Homo sapiens: one gene and its partners. The protein of the gene in region 1 interacts with the protein of each later gene in a pairwise test. Each region holds a gene or a part of one and is shown on either strand. Other genes may lie near its edges.

The links.
Region 2: the proteins of CEP170 (region 1) and KIF2A interact in binary tests that used the Homo sapiens proteins (3 or more experiments, as listed by UniProt).
Region 3: the proteins of CEP170 (region 1) and DISC1 interact in binary tests that used the Homo sapiens proteins (3 or more experiments, as listed by UniProt).

Annotation. Positions count from the first base shown.
Region 1 is NC_000001.11:243,189,059-243,197,041, reverse strand, and holds part of CEP170 (centrosomal protein of 170 kDa), read left to right. Parts: intron 1-5,547; coding exon 5,548-6,024; intron 6,025-7,983.
Region 2 is NC_000005.10:62,301,000-62,309,456, reverse strand, and holds the start of KIF2A (kinesin-like protein KIF2A), read right to left. Parts: upstream 3,252-8,457; 5' UTR 2,985-3,251; coding exon 2,921-2,984; intron 1,149-2,920; exon of another isoform or gene 946-1,148; intron 1-945. UniProt on the Homo sapiens protein: Plus end-directed microtubule-dependent motor required for normal brain development. May regulate microtubule dynamics during axonal growth. Required for normal progression through mitosis. Required for normal congress of chromosomes at the metaphase plate.
Region 3 is NC_000001.11:231,692,058-231,700,040, reverse strand, and holds part of DISC1 (disrupted in schizophrenia 1 protein), read right to left. Parts: intron 6,216-7,983; coding exon 5,236-6,215; intron 1-5,235. UniProt on the Homo sapiens protein: Involved in the regulation of multiple aspects of embryonic and adult neurogenesis. Required for neural progenitor proliferation in the ventrical/subventrical zone during embryonic brain development and in the adult dentate gyrus of the hippocampus.

The DNA of each region.
Region 1 (7,983 bases):
TAAACTAAGTTGTTCATGTCAGAGTTTTCTAATTTTGTCCCAGTTTCCATGGTCAGCCTTACGTCCCATTACCAGTTGTTTGAGTGGTCTCTCCCAATGCATCCCCCATAAATTATGCTAATTCCTGCCTGCTCTTTTCCCACAGACATAAATACACACATACATTAAATGACAAAGAGATACATTCTAAATGATGTCTGTATATTTATCGTCAGTACGTTACAGTTTCATTCATTATGTTGTGTGTGTGCCTCCTCCCCACAGCTAAACTATACATGTCTTATTCAAGTACCGCATAATATACTATCACTGTGCCCTAGAGCCACCTAGTACTGAGAGGGGGAAAGATTTACCAATTAGGTGATTAAGAAAACATAGCTGAATATAATTATCACCAAACTCTGAAAATCAGTATGATAGTAATTTTTATCTTGCCGTTAAAATTTTAGCCCTCCCCTGTCACACACAAAACAGCTTTTGAAATCTGAAGCGCGTAACTTCTAACATACAGTGAAGTGTATATGTAATTTTTGTACAGAAGGCACAACCATGATTTACAGTAATAGCTAACACTTCAGTAGGGTTTACTTTATCCAACATTCTTCTGAGTGCTTTGTATGCATTTATTTAATCATCACAGCAATACCTAAAGGTACAGTTACGGTGATTTTGTAGATAAAGAAACTGAGGCATACTGAAATTAATTTACTTGTCAAAGTCACCCAACTACAAATAATGGAGCTGGGATTTGAACTTAGATTGCCTGACTCCTGAGTCCACGCTCTTAACCATAAGAAGTTTTAATATTTCAGCCATCATTACTCTTGTAAACACAATCACTCTAAAAGGATATACTTCATAGGGTACAAAGATTTAAACAAATACTCCAAAATCAAATAGCCATAAAAATTGATCCCTCCTAGCTCAGCATAATAAAATAAATTTCAAATGTGAAGCATCCAGCAATACTTTCATCTATATGAATGTAACTGAATTCTCAGCTTGTGTACTCTTTCTGCTAGATGACCAAAAGCCGTCTCATGATCTTGGGGTTCTTTTTGAGTAATAATTCAGTGATTTATGTCTTGTGTCAAATTCCTTAAAGTGCCCTGTCAGATACAGCTGATTAGTAATAGCCTTAAGAGACTCTCACTTGCTTTCTTATGTTAGTATGAGGATATTACTGTTTCAGATTTATCATTTGCAGCTTTTTAAAATATAGGATGAGGAAAATAGTTTACTGTCTTGTAATAATTTATGAAGCCAGCAGAAATTGTAGAATCAGATTTGAAATGTATATCAAGTGTTCTTTAATGTGGTCATTTTGAAATTAAGGTATTTTTAAAAACTTAAACTTTTTTTTTAAGTTTCAAATTGTGGAATATACGTGATTAGTTTAATAATTTATCCTGTAGCATACTCTTAGTGAAAGCAAAAAGTGATTTGCTTCTTCGTTATTAATTTTTAGAGTTGCATTCCAGAAAGGATAATAGAGTGTTTGCTACCTAGTAATTTTTAACGTTCCTCTCTGTGGGTTCATATATATCCAGAAACTCCCGAAGACTTGCCATATAGCTTAAAAAGCCCTGGTTTAAGCAAATACTTACTTTAGAGCAATTTCGTTCTCCAGAAATTGTGTGACTATTTTTAATCGTATTAAGACGTAAAGTTTGTCCTCAATTTATTTACAGCTATGCTTTTCTACCTCCTAACTTGGTCTCAACAATTAATTTAGGTTATAATTAAAGGCCTTTAACTGTTGCACACATTTTGAAATGGCATGTGCAACTGGGAATCATAGATTTTTGGCTCTCTCATGTTGATTTTTAATCCAGCGAAACTAAATTTGGAAATTTTCAAGTCGTAGCTCCTTTTAAGCAAAAGGAGCTTCCCAGTCTTCTTAATTTGACATGCTTGAACAGACTAGGTTAGATGGATGTCTTAAGCAGAATGAGCTGTTATAATTATAGTCCTTGTCATCTCAAATAAGTTTAATATTTCATTGAATTTAGTACAGAAGAATGAAAAGAACATTTATTCTGGATGAAGTATAAGTATCCCTTATAACATATTGTGTTAAGGTAACACAGTCATAAAATACCTTAAGAACATAAGCAGATTATCACCAATTGCTTTTCTGATTGAGATATATGGAATTAATTATGGCATAATCAATCATTAAATAATTTTTTAAAATCTAGTAATTGAGATTAATAATATAATATTAGTCTAAACAAGTATTTACTCTATTATTTAGTTTCATTTGGTATAACAAAATGAGTTTTGAAGATAGATGAATGTTAAATTTCTAAATTCCAGAATATGTTCTGTTAGTGTTCTGAGGGAGGAAAGGTGTTTTATTTTTCTGTGTTGATTAGAAGACCCCTTATAGTTTTCTATTAGGTACTTCTCAAGTGTAGTTGGACCACACTTCATCTGTTTTTATCATCTTTAGGGAAATGAATCCTTCCACATAATGAATTTTCCAGATGATTGAACTTTACTTTTACAGTTGATAGTTTTTTTGAAGTTTAACCATTTCCTAAGTTTCTATTAAATTAATTACCCATATTACCACCTTCTTAAGCAGAGAAGTTTCAGTATAATTTAAAACTTTTTCTTATGACTCAAAATCATCAATCATCAATATCAGTATTACTATTATATATATCAATAGCAATAGCAATATTGATATAATCAATAATCAAATATATTAGTAATATAATAATACTGATACTGCCTTACAGTAATGTCCTCAGGAGACTGTAGTATATAAGACTGTTTGCCCTATATACTGAATGGTACTGGACTATCATGTTTTTGGGGCCATTTGTCTGCTCTTGTTTTTCATCTTGTCTCTACCACTTGGTGCAATTTGTCTGTCCTTAATCCTCACTTTTGTACCCTGCCCAAGGTTTGCTACATGTGATCTGAGTAAATAGTAAAAACCTCTCGGTGAAGATCTTAACTGTTAGTAATGTTTATGAATATTCAAGGATAGGCATTGTCATATCTGTCTTGGGTTTTTTAGAGTTGGGTTTTGGTATTAGCTTTTTGTCTTCCTGATTCTCAGCTGTTTTTGAAGGTGGAGGGAGAAGCATTTATTTGTGTACCTGCTTTGTTCTGGGTAACTTACATGATCTCACTTAATACTCATCTCACTAAATCTTCACAACAATCTTATGGGAAGATACTGTTTTCTCACTTTATGATGAGGAAAATGAGGACTACAGACTGATTAGGGATAAGATTTATCTGATTTCAGATCTTGTCTGGGCTTTGCATGAAACCAGGCTGCCTGGTTATGATCATCAGATCATAGTCTGCTGCCTTTCCACTCTATTGTGCTACTTGACCTGGTTAGGTACTTGATTTCTAGATGAATTAGTTATTAACTTGTATAAGTCTCAAGTTTCTAGCTTTGAGTGAATGCGAGTTTGAAGTAGTACTAACATGGGAATGGTGACCTTCAAAACAGGTGACCTTGATAAGTGCTATATCCCTGGCCAGCTTTTTTGTGTTGCTTCATAGCTGAGCCACATCAGTTTTATTTAGCTCTCTGTATAGTGGATCAGTTTTATTTGGCTCTCTGTGTAGTGGTATTAGAAACTACCATCTTGACGTTGTTCTGTCACCTGAAGGATGAGCAAAGCAAAAACAAACTATATGTATATATCTATATGGGGGGAGGGAGAGAGGACAGGTTTATGAACCAGTTGTACTGTATGGACTTGATCAAGTACAGTACATTGTGCATAGTAAAAAAAAATCAATGTCTGAAAAAATAGAAAAATAACATTAATGAACTATTAATATATGAGAAGCAGTTAATACATTTTATTCTAATGGAAATTTTAACTAACATGACTTCAGAGTAAACACTCACAAGTCCAGCTGAACATTTTATTTTTAAGAAAAAGACAAATTAACTCTTTAATCAAACATTTTTTTAAACTTAGGTCATGTCATATAAATGTATGATTATTTCTCTGATAATGTAGAGTTTTTCCAATACTTTTCTTTCATGTTCAGTGATAGGAAAGCTGAGTAGATTTTAAAAGGGATAATTTTTCACAGTGAAAATTACAATATATTCTTTCATATTATATGTTCTCTTTGCCTTGTGTTTAGATTTTTTTGACAATTTATTATTATTATATTTATTGTGGAAATGGAGCTTGTTGTCTTCCGTGCCCTATCCCACACATTTGATTATGAAAGAGAGATGTTACTATATCATTCTTCTGTAACCTAAAAGCAGTCAGGTTTTATATTATTTCATATTCAGACTGCTGTCAAGAAACCAATTATAGTACCTGACAGATCCCACTAAAATTTAATTTTTGAAAAGATGTTTCAAAAGACCAAACGCTTCACTTAATTAGAAAATGTTTGGAAACAACCTAGTCTCCCTGTATTGCCTTGTTTTCCTAATAAATTGTCTGTAAGTGATTTTTCTATTAATCTGTTTAAAAGCAGAATTTATTTTTGAGCTTTAGGGAAATATGTCTCATTTCAACTTGCTCTTCATTTTGATAATGGACATGCTTTGCTTCTTCAACAACAGGACAATAGCATCTTTAATTTTTTTATTTTGCATTTGCGTACCGAAAACGTTTTAGTTGTCATTTTTATTTATGTATTTTATTCATAAATGCATCTGTTTCTATACTTTTGTATTAGATTCTGAGGCAACAGAAGAATAGTGATAGTGTTCCAGAGTTGCTTGCTCCTTCTGCCAACTCATGTTAATCTGAGGTTTACAATTCAGCTTTCCTCCAAGGAATTTTGACACTTTTGCATATTCTGCTGTATGGAAATGTAAACTTCCAGAGTTATTGTCTGGAAACTGAATTTCCTATTTTAACCTTATTTCGTTCACACTGCTGCTTGGATTGCAAACCACATGTTTTAGTCTTTATAAAATGTTTGTATCTTCTTGCAAGGATCGCACTTCAGCAATATCTTTGTCATTCTGAAAGTAATGTTTCCGAATGTAATGGTGAAGAATGGTAAGTGGAATCATTACTTCCAGAAGATCACTTACATATTTACTTCATGTTTGTATTCTCATTTGAGCACCTATTCTCCTTTGGAGCACTACATGTGTTCATATATATTTCAGATATCTCATCTTGGCGACTTGAGAAGGGAGTTCATGGTTTTTCTGTCACTTTTTATATATACATTGAACATGCATCTCCATCTACATTTTATTTTAATTCTTTTGGACCTTGATGAATTCTAGATCCAGGTTGGAAAAAATATGGACCTAGCCATGCAAGATCCATTTCTTAACTGCTTTGCTCTCATTTGCCATTGCTGCTGCTTATCTTCCATCCCCTATTGGTAATCAAATCGCATGTTTATAATCAAGATTCTTTCTTCTCTGTGACATTTGTTCTGTGATATAAATGCCATTGGTTTTCATCCAGACTGTGATCTGCCTTCTGGTTCTCACGGAGTAGTACACATGGCCATTACCAGACTCCCTCAAGTGCCAGAAGCAATCAAATATTTTGAATTTTCTCTTATTTTTCTCATTAGGGTGCGGCATAGATGCCAAGCAAGTTGAGGAACAATCTGCAGCTGCAAATGAAGAAGTACTTTTTCCTTTCTGTAGGGAACCAAGTTATTTTGAAATCCCTACAAAAGAATTCCAGCAACCATCACAAATAACAGAAAGCACTATTCATGAAATCCCAACAAAAGACACGCCAAGTTCCCATATAACAGGTGCAGGGCATGCTTCATTTACCATTGAATTTGATGACAGTACCCCAGGGAAGGTAACTATTAGAGACCATGTGACAAAGTTTACTTCTGATCAGCGCCACAAGTCCAAGAAGTCTTCTCCTGGAACTCAAGACTTGCTGGGGATTCAAACAGGAATGATGGCACCCGAAAACAAAGTTGCTGACTGGCTAGCACAAAACAACCCTCCTCAAATGCTATGGGAAAGAACAGAAGAGGATTCTAAAAGCATTAAAAGTGATGTTCCAGTGTACTTGAAAAGGTTGAAAGGTAAAGTGATTTGATCATTCAGAACTTCCTACTTTACGATAAAGAAAATCTGGTCTTCATTTACTAGACTACTAGTAGATACTTACATGGTAGAAAACATTCTGCTTTTTTCAAAGGTTATATTTAGTCTTAAAACTAAACAGGAAGCTACACTGCCCATGTCCAATTTCCTCATTCAAAATAGTCTTCCTTCATTTTCTTGACAAAACCAGATTGGTTTTATGAGCTTATATTTATGCTATAAAACATGTTTCTTTTTCTTCTAGAAATATAAGATTTATTAAGTTTACCAGTAGAGTTCCCTAGAAGATGAGTTCCATCATTTTCTTGATTTAAGGAAAAGATATATTCAATTCTGTTCTCTATTGAGATCAATATCTAGATTCTGAAAGAAATTTTAAGTCATTTGGTCTGAGCCAAAAGTTCTACTTTGGTAATGCAGTCACATCATTGATGGAGCGCTTCAAAGTATTCTCAGTGGTTACTCATAAAACAAAGATTTTTGGTTTAGAAATATTTGGTAGGATCTATTAATCCAGTTTTAAAATTTTTTTTAATATTAGGACTTCATGAAAATTAGAGTTGAATGTTCATTTTTGAAATAGTTATATATACTTTATTTGTGTAGAACTTAGCCAAAATTAGTACAATTTGTATGTTTGTACACTGATGTATCAGCTGATCAGTTTTTTCTCATTGGTTTTGCCAATTAAATTTATTTTAGAATTGAGTATAGATTTATGTTACCCTATCTTTTATTTAATAAGCTATCTATAAGGAAAACGATTTTGAACAAATTGTGATTACACGTTTAGCTGACCATTCTGTTACTATATTAGGAGTTTTTGTACTCCTAACACTTCATCTAGTACTTGAGCATGTGATAGGTACTAATTTGAAAACAATGGGCGATTTCTCTGTCAATGACAAGACTGTCCCTGATTTAATCTGTACCTTATGTCCTGGCATTCTGATCAAGTAATGAAGAAATAGTATTTGTATACTTATTTCTGATTTGCTTCTAAGACATTTCCGGACAGTGAGATGATGTGATTACCTAATTATTTGTTGGAGCCTATCACAATATTTAATTATAGTTATCAGCAGTTACCTGGCATATGTATTTTTGAGACATGATTGTGACATTTTACTTCTAGACAATACGTAATTGAGACATTTTGTTTCTGTAGGTTAACACTCACAAACACATAGGCTGTTTATATGAATTGGATAAATAATATTGATCTCCTAGTACAGTATAAGAGGTAGCTGAACCTTGAGAATTTAGAAATAACTTAGACTTTTTAAAACCACTCTTAATAAACAAAAACTGAGGTAAAATATCCTTTTAAAAGGTAATCATTTTAAAAATACCTTTATTAAACCCATTTATAACTTAGTCATTATAACTATTTTCTATATTGACTATTATTATTACTACTATTTTTTTTTTTTTTTTTTGGAGACAGAGTCTCGCTTTGTCACTCAGGCTGGAGTGCAGTGGCGCGATCTCGGCTCACTGCAAGCTCCGCCTCCTGGGTTCACGCGATTCTCCTGCCTCAGCCTCCCGAGTAGCTGGAACTACAGGCGCCCACCACCACACCCGGCTAATTTTTTTTATTTTTAGTAGAGACGGGGTTTCACCGTGTTAGCCAGGATGGTCTTGATCTCCTGACCTCGTGATCCACCCACCTTAGCCTCCCAAAGTGCTGGGGTTACAGGCGTGAGCCACCGCGCCTGGCCTGTATCGACTATTATTTTTAAGCCATTATTTTAAAACGTTCTGTCCTCACAAGCCCATTTGTGGGCCTAATTCCAAATAGAGGGATTAATGTCCACATGTATACTATATCTGTATTTTAATGATTAGATCTTTTAAGCCCTTACTAGAAATTATGTAATCATATTACTGTTGTCCTTCAAAGTTGATTTATAGGTAGACATACATTCCAGTATGGT
Region 2 (8,457 bases), on another chromosome or scaffold:
ACTACTGTCCAATGCAAATGATCCTTCTGTTCTTTCGAAGTTCTCTACTAATCTCCTGCCTTCCACCAACTCCATCATGCATCTGAGGCACATAAAAAGATACATGACCATAGGTTAGGATAATAACACACTGTGATGACTTCCCTAATTTCTTATAGGCAAACCGCTTTTGAAATGTGGCTTTAGGTTAGTAGCACTTATGTAAGAACACAAAGCTCTTGTATGTCTGGGAACTTCTGGTATAGGCTGAAGGTGAAGGCTGAAAAGAACGAAAATTGCTTCAAGTTCAATAAATTTAAATAAAATATGCTCCGTAGAAATTAAAATGTATAAATCAAATATCATATACTTTTTCTGATACGATTTCAAAGTTAACACCTATACTCATACTTATGAGTGTAAAGAATTTACACATTTTATTGCACCCTAATTTTTTAAAAAATAAATTTCATTGTGCAACTGAGGTTTACAACATGATGCTATGGAATATAGACAGCAAAATGGTGAAGCAGATTAATATAGCTATCATTTCACATACTTTAACAAGAGCTGCTAAAATCCACTTATTTAACAAAAATCTCTAATACAATTTTACTAACATTGGTCCCCCTGTATCTCTAAACTTGTTCATCCTACATATCTGCTATTTTGTATCCTTGACCTATATCTCCCCATTTCCTCTCCTTCCCCACCACCAGTAGTAACCACTGTTTCGTTCTGTGTATTTTAGCTCCTTAAAAAAATATTCTACATATGAGTGAGATTATGCAATATTTTCCTTGGTGTCTGGCTTATCTCATTTAACATAACGTCCTTCAGGTCCATCTATGTTGTGGTAAACAGTAGGATCTCCTTTTTTAAGGCTGAATAATGTTCCATTGTACATTGTCTATACACACACATAAACGTATACACACACACATAATTTCTTTAGCCATTCCTCACCCATCGATGGACATTTAGGTTGCTTCCCTATCTTGGCTACTGTGAATAATGCTGCAATGAACGCGAGAGTGCAGATATCTTCACAAGGTGGTGATTTCCTCTCCCTTGGGTGTATACCAGGGACAGGTGTTGCTGTGCACCCAGAATCTTCAAAATAATATGTAAATCCTACTTTTGCTGGTATACTGTGAACTCGTATTTACCTAAAAAAATGACATTAACAGCACTCTTTCAAGAAAGTAATCTGAAGAGAAAATATAAAAGAAACCTCAACCCAAGTAAAGAAGGTATCTCTTTCCCATTAGTGTTATTGGTAATTTCTAAAGCTCTAAGCGGTATAATTTATCTTTTCATATACAGGATAACGATGGTTTCAGTTGTTACCACAAATTACTTCAAATATAACGGAGGAAAAAATCATTAGCTATATAGGGTCTTCCAATATATCATACACACAACATGAAAATCAATCTAGCTTCACGTAACTTGGTCAAACCTGGCAGAATCCAAGGGGCACGTGGACGTGACAGCCAAGTTACTACTGACTAGGCTAGGCTAAAGGTTAATAAATAAGGCACTCATAAAAGGAATCGAGGCCAGGCGCGATGGCTCACGCCTGTAATCCCAGCACATTGGGAGGCCGAGGCAGGTGGATCACTTGAGGTCAGGAGTTCGAGACCAGCCTTGTCAACATGGTGAAACCCCGTCTCTACTAAAAATACAAAAAATTAGCTGGGTGTGGTGACAACGCCTGTAATCCCAGCTACTCAGGAGGCTGAGGCACAAGAATAGCTTCAACACGGGAGGCGGAGGTTGCAGTGGGCCGAGATCGCACCACTGCACTCCAGCCTGGGTGAAAATCCGTCTCAAAAAAAAAAAAAAAGGAATCGGTATGAGAGATGGAGTCAGGAACACTGCTCAACTCGAGATTATCACACATCTCTCGTTCTTTCAATATTGGTACCGAAAGAAAATAATTTTACTTATCTCCCTCCGTGCATTTATTCCTTTACAATATGAATTATTTCCAGTCTGGCTGGCGTATCTCACTCCACACCCCAAGCTAGTGTCATAAACCATTTTCCCCAAGAGAAACCTAGAGAAAGATACATAAGCCTAAGGCTCTTAAAAAAAAAAATGAAGCATGTGTCTTCACCTCGCCTTACACTTTTCTCAGTTACCTCTCCCGAGGGTGTGAAAATATCAACATCCGGTCGCCCACCCCCACTCTCTCAGCAGTGCCTCGCATTGACTCTGCCCATCCCCTATCATTCCCTTTACAGTCTCATCACCTTGGAGAAGCCCATCGAATATTTCTTCCCATTGCTCCCCCACCCTTATTCATGGCTCAGCGCGATATTCTCCACATTTTTCTCCCAAGAAGTGGCAAAAAAGAAAGCAGCATGGTCGACGACGAAACCGGGGAGGCCTGACAACCAGACGGCAGTTTAAGGCGACGGAACTGGCTCTTTCCCCCCATCTCGGCCTCCGACCAGCAGTCGGTTCTCTAAATGTGAAATCGCTGGTCTTCCCGCTCCCCCACCCCCATCCCCATCCCCGTCAGAGGCCAAGCCGGTAAAATGCAAAGACCAAGGGGAAGCGCGAGGCAGGGTCATCCCTAACGAAGCCCGCTCCCTCCCGGGCTGGTGTCCCCGGGGGGGGGCTGGAGATTGCGGGAGGAGGAGCGAGCGGCCCTCGCCCAGAGACCCCCGGAGACGCGACCCTCGACACCCGGGCCCTTTCCCCACCCGGCTTCCCTCCCCCGCGGCCCGATCCGGAGAACTGCAGCAGCGCCCGGGCGGACCCCAAGCCGGCCTCACTGGCACACACGCCACACACAAAAGCGCCGCGGCCGCCGCCTTCCCACCCCCACAGCCCGGCGAAGCAATCAATGAGGCGGCCGGCGCCCGCGTCCCCTCCGTGCACACCCGAACACGGGGCCGAGCGGGCCAGCGGGGCTGGCAGCGCGGCTCACCATCGCTGCGCTTGATCTCCACGTAAATCCCGATCTGGATCTTGCCGAAGTTGGCCGTTGCCATCACCTCATCTGGAGCAGCAGCAGCGGGCCGAGGGAGGGGGACCGGAGGGCGGAAAAGGCGGGGAGGGGGCGGGGTAGGTGTGGGAGGGGGAGCGGTTGCCCGCGGCCGCGCCGGCCCGGGCGACAGCGTGAACGCAAGCGGGGCCGCAAGGAGCAGCTGTGGGGAAGCAGGCGGAGGCCCCGGGCCTGCAGGCCGGCAGGAGGACGCGCACGCCGGGTAGTCGGGGTGAAGCTAGGGCCGGGGCCGTGAGACGGCGCGGGGTAGAGTGGGAGGGCCCGCACCGCCCGCCGGGGAGCCGACGCTGGGGAGGCGGGGCGCCGCGCGCCTGCGCAGAGCGCGCCTCCGGCGTCTCTTCTTCCTTTTCGGCTGGCCTCTCCCCGCTGCCTCCAGGCGGCCCCGCCCAGCTCTGCAGCGGGGTGGGCGGCGGCCGCGGCTTACCCAGCCGCTGGAGCGTTGAGCGCTCGGCCCGGCCCACAGCTAGCCGGCGTCGCGTTTGATTTCAGCGCGCGGCCTAGAAGACGCGGGAAGCGTCGCGCCGAGCTTTCTTGCCCTCTCGCTTCCGGGAATTGGCGCTGTTGCCGGAATGGGTTAAAGGCCACGTGGTTTCAGGGGCTTTCTAGCGGGCTGAGGGATGTGAATTCAAGGGCCCTCCGTTGACAGTACGGGATCCGGGTTTTCATCGGAAGGTGGCACCCCCTATTTCCACTTACAGGTAGCTGACCCAAGCAGCCCTCCCAAGCACACTTGGTGTAGGTTTCCCATCCAGTTACGCTGGAAGGGAAGAAACACCCTTGAGGTGTCACCTACCCTAAATCGAAATGAAGATCCACCCCTTTACAGTCTTGCCTTATAGTTTATCACACTCAGAAAGAAGCTCTGTGGTGGGGCGTCCTTAACTGTTCAGGTTATGAGGCATCCGATGCTGGTGCCCTGTTTCTGCTGAGGGTTCAAGACTTACTTGCCTTGGCCTGTAAAGCCAACAACTGTGACTCAAGGGAAGAAGGCAGACACATAAGGTTGACTAGGGAATGTGTCTTTTTGCAATAATTTAATTAGTCTGACCACATCAGCAATGTGGAAAGCAAGACTCTCCATCCTGGCAGAGCAGGAAGGCCACGTGTACCGGGGCCCTGGAAACTGTATTTATAGCACCGTGTGAAAACCTCCAAACGTCTAACTCCTGCTTGTAGTACTGGCAATTGATAGGTTGGAAACAACACTTTTCATGGCCTACTTTCCCTAGTCATTGTTTTTTGTTGTTGTTGTTTTGTTTTGTTTGTTTTTGAGGGGGAGTCTTGCTCTGTCGCTCAGGCTGGAGTGCAGTGGCGCGATCTCCGCTCACTGCAATCTCTGCCTCCTGTGTTCAAGCGATTCTCACGCCTCAGCCTTCCGAGTAGGTGGGATTACAGGCCCGCGCCACCACGCCTGGCTAATTTTTGTATTTTTAGTAGAGACGGGGTTTCACCATGTTGGCCAGGCTGGTCTCAAACTCCTGACCTCAGGTAATCCACCCGCCTCCACCACCCAGAGTGCTGAGATTACAGGCATGAGCCACTGCGCCCGGCCTTCCCTAGTCATTGATAATCTCCCTGTAACAATAACTACAAATATACAATTTAAAATTTTAAAATTGGAAACTGGATATATACATCAATGCTTATGTGGATATATGTGTGCCTAGAGTTTTCTATCTAATGTAAGTAATCATGTAGGTCCTTAAAAAACTGTTAAAAGACTGGCTTCATCTGTAGCTTGAACATATTGAAGGTATACCTGTCAAAAGAACAATTCTATTGAATCCATTCTAAAGTGCATATAATTTCTATGGAAAAAAAACCACACTGGATAGACAATGTGGAAAATAACTTCTTTTACATTCCAGAAATGACACACTTGAGTACCCCGGTTTCAAGTGAAATTTGACCAAATCAGGGTTTAGTTTTTATTTTTTCTATAATTTTGGGAGTTTTATCTGAACTCTTCAAGCTCCTGTCTAGAATTCATTTTCTGATGTCTCTGCAACTGAGGTATAAAACATCTATTTATATTTTATTTATACTTTATAAAGAATGCAAAGAAATCAAGCTATACAGCTCAAAGTTAACATTGTTTCATAAAATATTATTATTATTATTATTAGAGACGAAGTCTAACTCTGTCGTGCCTAGGCTAGAGTGCAGTGGCATGATCTCAGCTCACTGCCACCTCCACCTCCCAGGTTCAAGTTATTCTCCTGCCTCAGCCTCCCAAGTAGTTGGGACTACAGGCGTGTGCCACTACGCCCAGCTAATTTTTTGTATTTTTAAAATAGAGACGAGGTTTCACCGTGTTAGCCAGGATGGTCTCGATCTCCTGACCTCATGATCCTCCCGCCTCAGCCTCCCAAAGTGTTGAGATTACGTGAGCCAACACGTCCAGCCAATAAAATATTATTTTGTATCGTGGTTGCTGACACATACCTTACACTCTGTGGTTTATATGGTTAATCTTAACCTTTAATCCATATAAAAGGTATTTTTAAAATATGTACATTGTTTTGCTCCATAAAAATGTATGACATAACACTTAACAAACACAAAACCTTTCCTTTATAAGACATACCCAAAAGGCTTACTTTTTTTGGTACACATCAGCATATGTATTTACCAAGACTTTCATTATGGGCTTTGTATGCTAGTGGCTTCCTAAAGAGCAGCCATAAATACATGCAATGTGGCTATGTTTCCATCAACATCCTGGATCAAATATTCTAACTCTGGCTGAGACATTAACAAGATATATAATCCTAACTAGAACTACTACTAATAAGATCCTGAATTAGTAACTACTAATTAATCACTAAGATATATACCCTACTAAGAACTACTGTTTTTATTAGGATTATATAGTCTGCACTCAGACATTTGTTCAATGAGTTAACTTCTTAAACTGCTCAGTATCTCAGTTACCTCTTTGATCAACCTGGAATAATAACTTACATTCTCTCAATCACAGAAAGTTTTTGTGAGGACAAATGAAATAAAATGTGATAGTGCCTTGATATTTATAATTTTTTTTTTTTGAGATGAAATCTCACTCTGTCGCCCAGGCTGGAGTGCAATGGTGCAATCTCGGCTCACTGCAACCTCTGCCTCCCGGGTTCAAGCAATTCTCCTGCCTCAGCCTCCCGAGTAGCTGGGATTACAGGCACCTGCCACTACACCCGGCTAATTTCTGTATTTTTAGTAGAGATGGGGTTTCACCATGTTGGTCAGGCTGGTCTCAAACTTCCGACCCCAGATGATCCACCCGCCTCAGCCCCCCAGAGCACTGGGATTACAGGCGTGAGCCAACGCGCCTGGCCTGTAATTTGTTTTATAAAAGTAAACCATCCTATAAAATATAACCCAGGCCAGGTGCTGTGGCTCATGCCTGTAATCCCAGCATTTTGGGAGGCCTAGATAGGAAGATCCGTTGAGCTCAGGAGTTTCAAACCAGACATTTGTATTCACATTCAGCTAAGTGAAAATACCAGGTGAAAGGCTGCTGATCACTTAGATCATGCAAAAGAGATAATATCATTTTTTTCTTAATACCTATCGCTGGCTTCCCAGAATAAAATCTGAATTCTTTACAAAACTGTACGCGATCTAGCTCTGGCTTCCTCGGCAGCCTCGTCTGGTGCTGCTCTCCTCTCACTCTGCTCCATTTTCGCAGAACTCCTTTCTGTCCCTTAAATCAGTCAAGATCTCTGATCAGGATGGCTGCTCTTGCTCATCTTTTCATGTGACTGATTCATCTTCCAGGTCTCAGTCAAAAATCACTCCTGGAAAAAGCCTTTCCTTGTCCCTCACCTTACCCCCACTTTTCTCAATCTGTCTTTCCTCCCCAACTCTAAAGTAACCTCCTCAAGGGTAGAAATCTTGCCTAAAATTCTTCACTCTATCTTTGGCACATAGAAGGGTACCTGGAACACAGCTGCTCAGCAAATATTTGTTGAATGAATGAAGGAAAAGTTTAATAATTTGTTATATGTTGCCAAATTTATAGCCTTAGGTAGTCTTTTCTCTCTGTTTGTTTGTTTTTTTTCTTTTTTTGAGATGGAGCCTCACTGTCGCCCAGGCTGGAGTGCAGTGGCATGATCTCGGCTCACTGCAACCTCTGCCTTCTAGGTTTAAGCAATTCACAAGAATCGAGATTCTCACGCCTCAGCCATCTGAGTAGCTGGGATTGCAGGCATGTGCCACCACACCCAGCTAAGTTTTGTATTTTTAGTAGACGACGGGGTTTTACCATGTTGGCCAAGCTGGTCTTGAACTCCCGACCTCAAGTGATCCGCCCACCTCAGCCTCCCAAAGTTCTGGGATTAGAGGCATGAGCCACTGTGCCTGGCTCATCTTTTCTCTTTCTGAATAAGCTCAATTGGTAATAGATTTTCTCATTAATATGACCCAGACAATCAATATTTAATGTTTCAATCATTTGAACCTCAAAAATCTCTAGTAGATATAGATTAGTGTATATGTAATAAATGTTTATAAAAATTTTAGGCTGGCACGGTGGCTCATGCCTGTAATCCTAGTCCTTTGGAGGCTGAGGCGGGAGAGTTTTTTGAACCCAGGAGTTTGAGGCTGCAGTGAGCTGTGATCCCACCATTACACTACAGCCTGGGTGATAGAGTGAAACCCTGTCTCAAAAAATAAAAAATAAAATTTTAAAACAAAAAGTGTATAAAGTAAAATGAAAGGGAAAGCCCTCGTTGCCCTCCAAGTCCCATTTTCTGGAAGTGGCCACTGTTAAGTATCATATTAATCCAATAATTCTCAATCTTTATTGGGCATAAAAGTCATATGAGATGATTGTTATGCAGACTCTTGGGTCCTATCATCAGAGATTGTGATTCAGTAGATCTAGTTTGAAGTGTAGGAATATGCACTTTTTTAACATTCACTCCAGGTGATTTTCACTCCAGGTCAGGTGATAATTCTTTTTTAAAATATATTTTACAAAAAATTTTAAGCCTGGGCAACATAGTAAAAACCTTGTTCCTGCAAAAAAAAAAAAAATTAGCTGAGCGAGGTGGTGCGTGCCTCTAGTTCCAGCTGCTCTGGAGGCTGAGGCAGGAAGATGGCTCGAACCCAGGAATTCATGGCTACAGTCAGCTATGATTGCACCACTGCACTCCCGCCTGACAGAGCAAGACCCTATCTCTAAAAATAAAATAAAATAAAATGAAATAAATTTTATTATATATATGATTTTACCTGTGTGACTGATATTTTAAAGAAATCATGCTGTATATACTGTTCTGAAACTTTCTTTTTAAAAAAAGTATATATATATATATATATATATATACACACACACACACACACACACATATTTTTTTGAGACAGGATCTCACTCTGTCACCTGGACTGGAGTGCAGTGGCTCAATCATGTGTCACTGCAGCCTCCGCCTCTGGGGCTCAAGCGATCCTCCCTCCTCTCAGCC
Region 3 (7,983 bases), about 11 Mb from region 1:
TTTAAAAGTGGTAAGGGAGTGAACCACGAGGCTGTCTGGGAGAAAAATATTCCCACAGAGGGAAGAGCCAGTACAAAGGCTCAGGCAGAAGTGTTTCTGGTAAGAAAGCAAGAAGTGAAAGTGAAATGAAAAGCAAGAGGGAGCAAGAATGCCACTGGATCTGGGGCAGATTGATGTAAGGGAAAACTGTAGAGAATGAGGTCACACAGGTAATGAGGACTGTGTCAAGAAGAGACATGAAGACCATTTAAAAGTTCTGATTTTACTCTGAAGTTCATGGGGCGCCACTGGAGAGTTTGGGGCAGAGGAGCACATGATCTGACTTATGTTTTAAACAGTTTCACTCTGGCTGCTGTTAGTAAGAGCAGAAGAAGGGAGGCCAGGTAAGAGGCTATGGGAACATTCAGGAAGGAGATGACAGGAGCTTGGATGATAGTGAGGATGGTGGCAATGGTGAAGATGGTGAGATGTGATCTGATTCCGGTTATATTCAGAAGACCGCTGGTTAAATATAGAGCCAACAGGATTTGCTAATACATCACAGGTGGGGTCTGAGGAAAATGCACCAGGATGATGCCAAGGTTTGTTTTGTTTTTTGTTTTTTGGGTTTTTTTTTCTGACCCACTGGAAGAATGGAGTACTTATTGCACCAGGTTATAGCCATCATTTTCCTTTGTTTGGTTTTATCTGTGCACATCATTCAACCTTGAGCATCTGGGGGGCAAGAACTATTTTGCATCCATGTATAGGATGCTAGTACTTACACTGACTTGATTTTCCACTGCTTTGGGCACATGGAAAGAGTACAAGTGCCTCTCTCCTTGTTCTGCTGAACAGGGTATGAGTGGCAGTGATGGGGTTACCTCTACGCTGAAGCATTTGATCGCTCTTGTAGGACTCCCTAACATTCTCTTCCTCAAGTCTGTGACTAAGGGGATCATATGTTCAGATGGTGCAGGCTGGGTTCTTGCCCCCCAAAAATCTCTGTGGAACATGAAGCATACGCAAAAAACACAATTTTGTTGTGTTGAGCCTCTAACGTAGTGCCTGTTACTAGCCTGTCCTAATACAATCTCCAAAGCCTAGGATAAGGCATTGTACTCGTTGTCATTGATAAATGCTTTCTGAATGAATGAAAGAATGAATGAATAATCATATTAACCCCTTTGTCTTTGAATTGTTCTATATTACAACTGCAAAGTTTACCAGTAACTTAGTCCTATATATTAGGGACAGAAGAAAGGCTGTGTGAATGGTTTGAGGGCCACATAAAGCTATAGCATTACCATCGCCACACCCAAATGATGGTATCATTAAACATTTATTAGAACAGAAGCTGAAGAAATGCAGGAAACAAGGTCAGGAAAAAAATTCATTTACAGCCAAAGCCCACCCCACGATGCCCACCTCGTCCAGTGATCTCTATAAGGCCCTGAATGGACTGCCCTGAGATATGTCTGAATACCCGTCTTTGCTGGAGGCACAGCCCCAGTGGCCATGTCTTGCACTGTGCCACAACCCTGCCTGTGGAACGTCCTATAATACTCTACAGGCAGAGTCCTTCATTTTTCACCAGTTTCCATGGCCTTAGGTGGAGCCTACCTTGCAGGGCCCACTCCACTTCCCCTCCTCTGCATGCCTGGTCACCAACTACCTTTATTACCATCTTCTCAGTCCCATGCAACCCCTGGAAATCTCGCTAAGCAGCGATTTCTAAACAGCATAAAATATTCACAGTCGATTCTCCTTATTCACAGTACTGTAGTTATGTTCTATAAAGTTTCTGTGAATACTGAATTAGGGAATAATGAAGCATTGCTCCTAAGAGAAATACAGGGTAGGTTCCTGTGAACCCCTGGTCACAACACCTTCCTCCATCGGTCAACACATGACCTTGTTCTATGTGTGTTTCTGTTTAAAAACATCTTATTTAATATGTATTATTGATCCATAAGCATTGTACTCTGGCCAACAGCACTCTAACTCATGCCTGAATAAAGTTTCTGGAGCACCTGTATCTTCTCCATCAGGCCCATCACAGCCTTCTCATGCTTAGGAGCACTAGATGACATTAGCACTATGCTTAGGGAGCTTTTGCAATGGTTAACTCACCAATAAAGAGCACAAAAATGTAAAAAAAGATGGCATTAAATAGACCACAAAAAGGATACTAGTTTGTAGTATGAGAGAGAAGGTAGAATGTCATCTGGTCTGAACTTGTTTGACCTAAGTAGAAAGCGTGTACATCAGGTGACCCAAATATTTTGCCACTCTGTGCAGGTTCAAAATTACCACCAGGCATGGTGGCTCATGCCTGTAATCCCAGTACCTTGGAGGCTGAGGCAGGAGGATCATTTGAGGCCAAGAGTTCAAGACCAGTTTGGGCAACGTGGCAAGACCCTCATCTCTACCCAAAAAAAAAAAAAAAAAAAAATTAGCCAGGCATGGTGGCATGCGCCTGTAGTCCCAGCCACTAGGGAGGCTGAGGCAAGAGAATCGCTTGAGCCCAGGAGTTCAAGGTTGCAGTGAGTTATGATCACACCACTGCACCCCAGCCTGGAAGACAGAGACCCCGTCTCTTAAAAAATAAAATAAAAATGAAAAATGACCATAAAAGTGCTGTGAGTACTGATTTTGGAGTTAACAACAAATTTTAGCAAGTAGACGAATTCACACATATAGAATCCACAAACACTGAGGATCAACCATCTTTTAGAAGAAGCTGAAACTTAAATTCCTGAGATTCTCATTTTTACTTAAGTAGAAGCGAGAGGAGGTTAAGGAATTAAAATATAATATCAATAAGGCCCCCAAACACTAGAAATCCTACTCTTTCAAAGGATCTTTTTGGAGATCCTTCACCGACCTTCTGCCCTGTCCCGAAGGCCTCAGCCGCAACCCCAGTGAGCAGTCTGGGGCCTCTGTGTAAGCACCATGGGAAAACAAGTCCCTGACCAGCCCACCTCATCACAGACAATTCCCACTGTCAAGAGGTTCTTCCTCCTATTGAGGCAAACTCTGCCTTCCTGTAAGTCCTATGCCCTGGACTGTGTTATTTCTGTCATTCCCACTACTCTGTTAATTCCGCTGTCACACAACAGATACTCAAGTACAGCCTAGCGTTACTTAATGACAGGGATGCATTCTGAGAAATGCATTATTAGGTGACTTCATCATTGTGTGAACATCGTAGAGTGTGCTTACACAAATCTGGATGGTGTAGCCCATTACACACCTAGGCTAGATGGAATAGTCTATTGCTCCTTGGCTACAAACCTGTGCAGCATGTGACTGTACTGAATACTGCAGACAAGTGTCACACAATGGTAAGGTATTGTTGTATCTAAACATATCTGAACATAGAAAGGGTACAACAAAAACACAGTACGATAATCTCACAGGACCACTGTCACATCATATATGTGATCCGTCATTGGCCAAAATGTCATTATGCAGTACATGAGTGTAATTGAAGAGAGTGTCATGTTTTTCCCTGCCCAGCTGTGGGACTGCCATAGACAACAATACTTACACTAAAGAAAAAGTGTGTCCAGATTCTACCATTTGAGATAAGATAGGAATTTAATTTGAGCTATGGACAGAAGGGAGAGCTTCATTTGCTTTTGACTCAAACTCTCTAAATTGGAGCTATTTCTCTAATGATGACAATGGTTAATTTCTGGGTACTTGCTAGATGCCAGGCCCTGTCTGAAGCACTTTGCACATATGATCACATTTAGTTTAATTAACTGGAGAAGAGAAACACCGCAGGAAGGTAGACCCTCTTGCAAAACCCAGGTGAAAGATAACAAGGATCTGAGCCAGGGCAGCGGCCATGGTGATGAGAGACAGATTAGCAGTAGGACTGAGAGGGCTTGGAGGCCAGCCAGATGTGGAACAAGGGAGAGGGAGGTGTGGAAGATGGTTGTGGTTTCTGGCCTAAGAAACTGGATAGATTCTATGCATTCAAATCAACCAATATTGGAGGCCCTTCAGAACGGGTTTCGGGGAAAGACAAGGGGCACTGGTTTAGGCAATGACTAACTGGAAGACTCCACACATCACCCAGAATACAAGCCTGCATCTGTGCTCTGACCTCACTCCCTCTCTGCATAATAAATCAGAGGGCTGGGCTGAGGTCCCTGAGGGCTGAAACAGGGCAAACAGGGACAGGGCTAGAAACATCAGACTATAGATAAAGAACAGATGGGAGATGCTCTTTCGGGGAATGAGCATGAACTTCTGCAGATTACTCCTCCCAAATGCCTGATGAGTGGGTGCTCCACTTCCCTACCCACATGAACATATCCACACACCACACGCAGAAACACATGAGTGCACACACACAAATACACTCGCACATGCATGCACACACACACATGAACACACAGCACAAACATGCACACACACACACGCACACACAGGCACACCTACATGCACACACATACACACACAAACACATATGCACACACACACCAGGATTAAAATACAGTCTGGCAACAGATGAGCCACAGAGCATCTCTACCTGGGCTTCTCTGGGAACTTTTGTGGGTAGAGGAACCCTACCTACTTCCGGCTATACCCACCTCTCAGATAACTGGATGGACAGCATCATCATAAGGCTGGGCCTTAGATGTCTCCAGTTTGTACTTATTTCCAAAGCAGCTACATTCTCATTTGAGCCTTAGAACAATCCTATGAGTTGGTGTTATCTCTAAATACGGAAACTGAGAGCCAAAGAGGTTCAATGACCAGAAGCGAAGTCTCCCGACCCTGTGGAAGGCAGCAGCCACTGCAGCAGGATGGAAGGGAATGAGTGAAGCGGATGAAGAGCAGGATCGCCCTGATAGAGGGCATCCCCATTTTTGTATCTCTCAAGTCCTTCCAAACATCACCCAGCTCAATCTCCCCTGCCCCCAGTTTCCTGTCTCAAAGCAGAGCTGGGCTGCATGAACCACGTCTCACCTAAGCCGGGGCCTGCAGAGGAGCCTGCGGCCCAATGGAGAGCAAATCTGAGCACCTAAGTGACAGAGAAGACAAAAAGGAGAGTAGATCTGTGTCCAATTCAAAGAGACAGAAGTGCAGCAACATCCTGTGCAGCCGGCTCCAAAAGGAGCTGCTGCAGCTTCCAGGAGGAAGTCAGTTGAGCCCAGAACCCCTCGTTTCCTGCCGTCTGCCCAGTGCTAATCTGAGCTCACGACAATCTCGGGCCACAGAGGTGGAAGAGACACTGACCTCCATCTGCCTCCGGTTTCTCAGCAGGCAGTCCCGCAGCACTGGCTCCCATTTCCTGAGCAGGGTGTCCCAAGAGTGGGCATCCCCTGAGCCGCTGCTCCCATCACCACCACAGCCAGCCAGTGAGGGATCCAGAGAACTGGAGGAGCCAGGGTCCATGTCTGGTAAAGAATGCATGTCACGCTCTGGCCTGGAGCTGTTCCTTGCGGCCTGGGCCAAGTCTGCAGAGACCCGTGTAGCCAAGAGACTGAAGGGCCGAGAGAGACATCGCGGGTCCTCGTGAGGCCCGTCCAAGCTGGCAGCTTTGGCTCCCATCTCCTGGGGGCTCTGGCAATGGGACTCAGCCTCTCTGGATGGTGGGCAGCCTTCTGCTTCTCCACGTTCCCCGGCAGAGCCAAGCGAGAGCCGAATAAAGCTAAAGCTTGAGGTAAAGGCACTGTGAGAGCCAGGAGGGGTTGGGGGGACCTCAGGGCCACAGCCAGGGCTGCAGCTGTTGCTACTCAACTCTGCTGATGGCAGAGAGCCTGCTGCCCGGACACGCCTTGCTCCATCGCTGCAGGCTGCCTCCCAGCTGGCGTCCAGGGTCTCAGAACTATCCATGGCTGCAAACTCTTGCTGCCACCCAGCACTCCCAGGGCCACACGGCCAGCTAAGCCTGTCAGGCAATCTGGTGCCACCTCTGAGCTGAATCCCAAAGTGCGCCGAGGTTCCTCTCACAGAGGTCACAGTAGGGGCTGCTGCACTCTTGGAAACAGGGCTCCGGACCAAGAGGCCTCTCGAGTCAAGGCCACACTGTCTGGCCCTGGACTCCGAGTGGTGGGACTCCTCGCCAGACACCCCTCCTGGGAACCGGAACAGTGTGCCCACTGCTGGGGAAAGGAACCCGATCCCAGGCCCTGTCGAGCTTCTCATGTAGCCCGGCCTCCGTGCCAGCCGCCGCCTCCGAAAGCACGCTGCAGGTGGTAAGCAATCCCGGCTGCCTGGGAAGAAAAGAAAAAACAGCACCATAAACATGCAGATCTTACTGGCCCAGCTGGAACTGCATCTGGAGAACATCCCTAGGTTTAAAGGTCATCTCTCAGTACACCTGTCAAAGATAGATGCTGGCTCAGTGGTCCCAGGGCCAATCCATTATGTAAATCCTGACAATCCTCAGGAAGTATTTGCCTGGAACATGTAGAAATCAACACAGCATCTCAGCTCCTCGGTTTAGCAGAGCAGCTGGCACTGCTGTACGCTATGCCAACAGGTCAGCATGAACACAACCTTGGCAGCTCCTGAACCCTCCAACATCTTGCCTGTTGGTCTTTTATGGCACCTCAGTACTCTCATCCTGGAGTGGGCCTGGAAAGCAAATGACGTGAAAGAGGAATGCCAGAGCATGCCTCTAAATGAGATCCAACTATTTACTCTAGCTATTCGTTGAACATGTGAATGTTCACTAGCGGAGCTATCCATGTCCCTGCAAGACTGATCTGTTGCTGCAGACCATGGATAGCTGGCTGTGCCGCAATGTATGGCCATCATCTCATCTCACTCAGTGGATGACAGGAGGCCTGCTTGATGTGTTCTCCAAACCAGCATTGCATTCCCTTCCCAGCTATGCTATAGGAATAGGAACAATAACAAATGCTGACTCCTCATTGACTGGTTCAAACCCTGATTGTACCACTTGCTGGTTGTGTGACCTTCCACAAGTTACTTAACCTCTCTGTGCCTCAGTTTCCCCATCAGTAAAGTGGTGATATTAACAGTAGCTCTCTCATAAGGTGGTTGTGAGCATTCAACTAAATGAGTTACTATTTGTAGACAGCTTAGAACAGTGCCTGGCACATATGATGATAAGAGTGATTAAAATGTTATTATTTTTAGATTGCATAGCACTTTGCTACTCATAATGTGTTTTAATTTACATTAATTTCATTCACTCCCGACCAAAACCATGTGAATCAATCCGACCCGAAACTATAGCTTTCCTTTTATATTAAAGGCAACTGAGATTCAGAGAACTTGACTTTCCAGAACCCCCTGCAAGTAGCCAAGTGACCAGGACAAAGTCTCTTGACTCTACTGGCCCACACAGAGCTCTCATCTCAGGACCCTGCCACATTGCAAATCAGGCATGAAAGTAAAACTAGGCAGCACTAGGCACAGCTGTAATCATACCATGGCCTATGGCGAGAAATGGAACAAACTTCACTCCAGGCCCACACATCCTGCTTTGCTTCCCAGAACAGACATGGGCTTGGAATCTTTGTCCTGTTAAGCCGAGATCACTAGGCATTAAGGATCCCACTGAGCTACGATCATGGCACATGCCATCTCCTAAAAGGGGTGGGGGTGGCATTGATAATCTCTGGGGAAATGAGCACAATGACCTCTAGCCCCCTATTTCCTGACTTGAGCATCTGAAGATAACAGAGCCCAAGACTTGCTCACACAGTGACTTGCTCTTGCCAATTGCGGGGAGCTCCAAAAGGGCTATTGCTGCCCGGGGTACAAAGAATTCCGGAAGCTTGCAAGGAAGGGAGGAATGGAAGCAGGGACCATGAGGTGGTGGTGGAAGAAGTCAGAGTAAAGAAAGGAAGGGAGGCATTTAACACTATAACCCTAGGAGATCGGTACTATTCCCATTTTACCAATAATACAGCTAAAGCTCAGAAAGCCTTACTTTGCCCCAGAACTCCCGGATCATGGTTTCCCAAAGCCCGGATTTGAACTGAGGCTTGTCTCGTTCCAAAGTGCATG